Linked DNA regions of Homo sapiens: region 2 is linked to region 1. The links come from fine-mapping of genetic effects on gene expression. Tissue or cell type: whole blood. Region 1 holds a variant in brackets; the other region holds the start of a gene. Each region is shown on its reference strand, or each on the opposite one. Region 1 overlaps TRPM3 (transient receptor potential cation channel subfamily M member 3). Region 2 holds the start of LINC01801 (long intergenic non-protein coding RNA 1801).

The links.
Region 2: LINC01801 starts here. The variant in region 1 is fine-mapped to the expression of LINC01801 in whole blood (TOPMed, PIP above 0.99).

Annotation. Positions count from the first base shown.
Region 1 is chr9:70,613,259-70,616,173 of GRCh38, reverse strand. TRPM3 (transient receptor potential cation channel subfamily M member 3) reads left to right here. Exons shown (of 26, transcript NM_001366145.2): 18 at 99-266. Among named protein-coding and RNA genes, the nearest start is that of MIR204, 200 kb to the left of the region's middle. The variant A/T (reference allele first, on the strand shown) is at 1,372.
Region 2 is chr19:34,831,372-34,834,286 of GRCh38, reverse strand. It overlaps LINC01801 (long intergenic non-protein coding RNA 1801), which reads left to right and starts at 1,418. Exons shown (of 6, transcript NR_033982.1): 1 at 1,418-1,562; 2 at 1,751-1,957.

The DNA of each region.
Region 1 (2,915 bases):
TCTTATACCCCATACCTCAGGCTCTCTGATTCTAAACAACCACCCTAATCTTAATCCTTTAAATGTGATTATTATTATTATCATTATTATTACTTTAGGTAATTCTGGGAATTCTACTTCCTCCTTCAATTCTCAGCTTGGAGTTCAAGAACAAAGACGACATGCCCTATATGTCTCAGGCCCAGGAAATCCACCTCCAAGAGAAGGAGGCAGAAGAACCAGAGAAGCCCACAAAGGAAAAAGAGGAAGAGGACATGGAGCTCACAGTAAGAAAACATTGCACAGTTATTCTCTATGGGCAGAATTCCTAATCCACTTGTCCCACCGATATGCTCAAGATTCAGTAACTCCTTAGGTCAGACATCTGTTCCCAGCCTTCCACCAGGTTTAATCATGGAGTGCTTTCATTTCAGTATTGAGACCAGGGTATTGGAAAAGTGTAAATAGCATGACCATAGGGTCCACCCATATGTGAAGTCTTGCAGCCAGCTAGTGGTGCAGGACAAACCAATGAAATTCTAAAGCAAGACACTCTACATTTTCCAAACAAGCAAAGCTTTTTAAACAACCAGATGATGTGTCTGTCTCAGCACACAGAGAAGGAAAGGGAATCCATGATTTGAGAGCAGCCGGCTTCACTGAACTGGTACTGTTCTGCGGATCAGAAGCTAAGCCTGTATCTGTCTTCAGGGTCAGGCTCACAATTACAGCACTAATTGAATTTTGAGGTTTGTATGCAAAGCTTTTATTAGCTCTTCCTCATATAATTATAGAGCATAGAGGCTTTGTTCTGCAGAGGGAAGGGGGCAGCTGGACATGGGACAGCTTCTTGCAACCCCCGCCTGAGCAGCGTGACTGCCACTGGCTCATGTGCAGAGGCTAAAAATATCACATTCTGTTAAAGGGACAAACAAGGCTTCATAGCTTGGAAGTCATCAAGCAACAGCTCCATAAGGACTTTCTCAATATGCCTCACCCTCCCTCACCACCCCCACCAATGACCATTGCTGTAGTGACCCAGAAGCTATAAGGGGTGAAATCACAAATTAATTTTGCTCAGGTGACAAAAGGCCTTTGCATTATTATCCTAGTAGGACAGCAGTGTGAATTGTTTCTCCTGCAGGTAAACAATATTTGCTTCCAGTAGGCTTCTCCTAAAGATCTATTTGCAGACATAATCCCTGACTTACTGAATGAAAGGCCAACTTTTGTTTCAGTTTGAGGATTTGTATAAAAATCTGTGGAGGAGTCGGCTCAGCTCTGTAACAGACGACTGTCTTCCCTAACAATCTCACCATAGTTTTGTCCTCTGAATAGAATATAATAGTTTGATCATTAGAAGAAAATTGGCAATAGTAATACTGAATCTTT[A/T]TGGAATATTTCAGCTGAACATGTGCTCTGTAGCCAGAATCCTGCCCCATTACCTACTTGCTGTGTGACCTTGGGCACAATTTTATAACCTCAAACACAGGAACAATAATGTTGTCTACCTCACAAGTAGTTGTCTCGTGTAAAAAGTGTGCCTGTAAACTACTTATATTGGAGACTGGCACACTGTGAACTAATACTGTTTTAACAGTGCTAAGTGCTTTACACATACTTACTAATGGAATCCTCACAAAAGTCCCACAAGATAGGCACTATTATTATCCCCATTTTATTTATTTATTTATTTTTAGAGACAGGGTCTCACTCTGTCACCCAGGCTGGAGTAAAATGGTGTGATTATAGCTCATTGTAACCTCAATGGGATTCAAGGGATCCTCTGGGCTCAAGGGATCCTCACACCTCAGCCTCCCAAGTAGCTGGGAATGCAGGTGCACACCACAACACCTGGCCTTTTTTTTTTTTTTTTTTTAAGAGATTGCCCAGGCTAATCTTGAACTCCTGGTTTCAAGCAGTCCTCTAGCCTTGGCCTCCCATAGTGCTGGGATTACAGGTGTGAGCCACCACACCCAGTCCTAATCCCCATTTTACAAATGAGGAAGCTGACAGTCATAGAGGTTAAATTGCTCAAGGATACCCAGCCTGTTCATGGCAAAGCTAAGATTAGAACCCAGGCATATAGACTCCATCAGCCACACTTTTAGACAATAGGTTAAGGGTGAGAGAGAATGTCTCTCTAGTCTCAAGTGTGGCCACTCAGCCGATTTGGTCCACCATGTAGCAGAAAGAATCCAAAAGTGATGAATGAGCCTCCAAAGTCAAGTGTGGCACAGTCCTGACATCAGCACACATCCTAGGAAGACATCCAGAAACTGAATCAGCATTCTCTCTGGTTGGGTCTCAAGGAAGAAAGCAAAGGGAGGTAGCTTCCCCTGCTCAGCCTAGAGCTTTGAGAACCTGATCCTTCAAGAAGCCACCATAAGAGATGCATCTCTAGACTAAGAGCAAAGTTTAGTAACAAGAGAATAGACCCTGACGTTGTTTACTAAGAGCCCAGTAGAAGGTTCTGCAAGAGCTTTGCTGCCCAAGCTTCTTCTCCACAGGCAGAAACAGCAGGGAGAAGGAAAGAAGGAAAGGACATGTGGCCTGGCAAACTCAGGGCTGGACAGCAGTTGTCTGTAAAGTGGACCCTTCCCTTGACTCTGATGGCAAATTCTGTCACTGCTCAGGCACTGGTCAGTGGACAGAACTTGGACAGAACTGCAGAGTGCAGCTCATTGGCACTTCCCCTCCTTTTATGGGATTGATATTTGAGCTTCTGTGTTAAACCAGTATATCCTCTCTTGGAATGGGACATTTTCCTTTGGCCCTTCCAAAACGACACACGAAAATATCAACCTCAATTCACTCCATTTTTGTAGCTTTTAGTAGTTTAGTTCACCTCAAAAGAACTTTCTCAGCCTTGACATCTGTGTCTAGCCAGCATAGATTCTCAAATCATGCTGTGCAGTTTTGTCTATATTTGACCC
Region 2 (2,915 bases), not on the chromosome of region 1:
ATATAAAAGAATAAAGTGCTGCTAAAAGCAACAACATGGATGAATTTTATGAAGTGTTGAATGAAAAGACACAGCCACAAACAGGACACATGGTAGGGTTCCATTTATATAAAGTTTTTAAATAGGCAAAACTAATCTATAATGTTAAAAATTTGGGAGGGGCATAGTGACTAGGAATGAGCATGAGGTTGATTCTGAGGTGCCTGTGTTTTGCTTCTTGATCTAGATTACATAGGTTTGTTCATTCTGCAAAAATGTATTGAGGAATAGACAGATGATTTGTACACTTCTGTGTATGAATGTTATATTGTAAAGTTTCTTGAAGAATACCTGTTTACAAGAGTTAGAGAACATGGAAGCTCTTTCTCTGAGATAAAACATCTAAAAAGACAAAAATTAGCCGGGCGTGGTGGTGGGTGCCTGTAATCCCAGCTACTCGGGAGGCTGAGGCAGGAGAATGTCTTGAACCCGGGAGACAGAGGTTCTAGTGAACCAAGATCACACCACTGCACTCCAGCCTGGATGACAGAGGAAGACTCTGAGACTCCGTCACAAAAAAGAAAAAACAAACAAACAAACAAACAAAAAAGCCCTAAGTCATATCATGCCAGTCTCAGCAGTTTGAAACCCTCCATGGTTCCCATCTCTCAGTAAAAGGCAACGTTCTTATGACATCCTTCAAGGCCCCATGTAGTCTTTTGGTCCCTCTCCATCTCTGTCCTCCTGTCATCCACGTCTCCCACGTGCTGATTGGGTCTGGTAGGGTGACTGGGTGGCAAAGACCTCACAGAGGTGCCTTTCTGCTCAGGTGGCAAACAGGAGAGTCTATCTGGGCCCTGCAGGATGGATCCTTCCTGAGTCACTGAATATATTGGAGGTGCAGACAGCGCCAGAGAAAGGCATTGAGCCTGCCAGATCAGACACCGCCTCTTAGGGTCGACGGAACACCCAGGAGCAAAGACCAGAAATTGTGGGAGAAAGGCCTGGAAGGGGGCCGGGGAGAGGCACAGAGACAGCGAGGTGATGCAGGCTTGGTGGGAGCGGGTATGGTAGGCAATGGGGGACAGAGGGGCAGGGCACAGACAAAGCTTGCTGAAGATATGAAGAGCAATTGTGAGCCGGCGAATCCTTGGAGTAGAGGAGAAAATTGAGGTCTCCTGTTCAGCCCGATGCAGGTGAGATGCTGTTGGAACACGTGACAGAGAAAGGGTGTGTGAGCCCAGGGCTTGTGCACTAAGCGCACAGGAGCGAAGGGGGCGAGAAGAAAAAACGACGCCCAGCAAAGAGCGTCAAGGCCCAACCGCCTGCCCCCAACCGGTCTCTAGCGCCTCGTGACCTTCTGCACTCCGTTGCAGGCGTTTGGCACCAGATGGTCCCACGCGCTCTGTTCGACGGTTGGGGGCCGCGGACGCTGGTTGTCAGCAGCACTGGGTCAGCCGGTGAACGGGTGTGCAGCGTCCTCAGCGCCGCAGCAGTCAGCACCTGTGGGTGCTCTAGCTCTTTCCCTCGGGGTCACCGGAGGCAGAGCCTCCCCTACGCGGAGTAGAGGAGCAGCTCACATGGTGCGGGGGTGGGGATCGGGCTTCCTGGAAGGCTGGAAATGGGAGTTGGGATAAGGGGTTGGCGAGGGCGGGGCGGCACCGTCTACCGGGGTGACCGGTGTGCCCTGGCAGCCAGGGAGTCTGCTGCAGGGCAGGTATTAAGATTCGGAGAGACATAGGACAAAGAACCCTCGGCCTCTTCTTTTCAGGCAGCCGCCACAGAGGACACCAGATCATGCCAACACCCCCACAACTCCTGCCCGCCTGCAGGCAGCTCTGGGCTCAGGACACCGCCTGCAAGAACCTTTATAGCGCAGCTCTCCAAACCTTGGAGGCGAGGACATTCTATGTGCCCGCCCTGGAAAGGCCTGAACCTATAACATCTGGGCTGTGATGGTTTCTGAGGTGGACACCAGGTATTCTAAACTGCCCACATGCTTCACCCCAAAACTTCCCTTTCTAACAGGCAGTGTATTTTCACTTCTTTTAAAATATTTGGTAAAACAGCATTTAAGCCTTAGAAAGTTCCCCATCTCACCCCAGCCAGGGTTTGAACCCATGCTGTCTGATTCCACAGATCATGCATTTAACCACCAGACTTTGGTGTAGCCTCACCGTGTGTGCATAATGGATTACACTTGTTTATAATACTTGGGGTGCTTAGCACCATGTCAGAGCTGTAATGAGTACTTGCACTGTTAGGAGGTCTAACATGGTTCAATTTATAAGTGGACCATTGGCCACACCGGGTCTGGCTCAGTCTCCTGGGAGGATGTAGGCAGGGACCACCAATTATCAGCATATCTCCATGATGAATTTCTCCAGACAGCGTATCACTCTGTCACACAGGCTGGAGTCACAGCTCACTGCAACCTCGAACTCCTGGGCTCAAGAGATCCTCCCACCTCAGCTTCCCAAGTAGCTGAGACTGCAGGCATGCGCCACCACGCCTGATAATTTCTCTTCTAATTGAGCTTTGCAGAAAGCCACACAGCTGTCTGAGAGCTATTTTCTCCCAGGTATAGGGACAGGAAATGGCACCTCAGACTTCTGCAGATTCCACCCTGGCTTAAAAGCCCATGCCCCCAAGGACACCAATCTTTCTTACAATAACATAGACTATCTTTCAGGGTCCTGGCCAAGATGGACAACTTGCCAATATTAACTTTTCCAGGCCACAGGGATGATATATATCTCCATAGATTTAGGTCTTGAGTATTTTCTCCTAGAAATATTTCGCAGCAAGGGTCAGCACTGCAGCCTATGGGCCAACAAATTTAGCCTGTAGCCTACATGTAAGGCCAGTGAGTGAAGGATCCTATTAACAATTTTAAAGAGTTGCAGCAGAATACACAGAAACACAAAGAGTCTGTG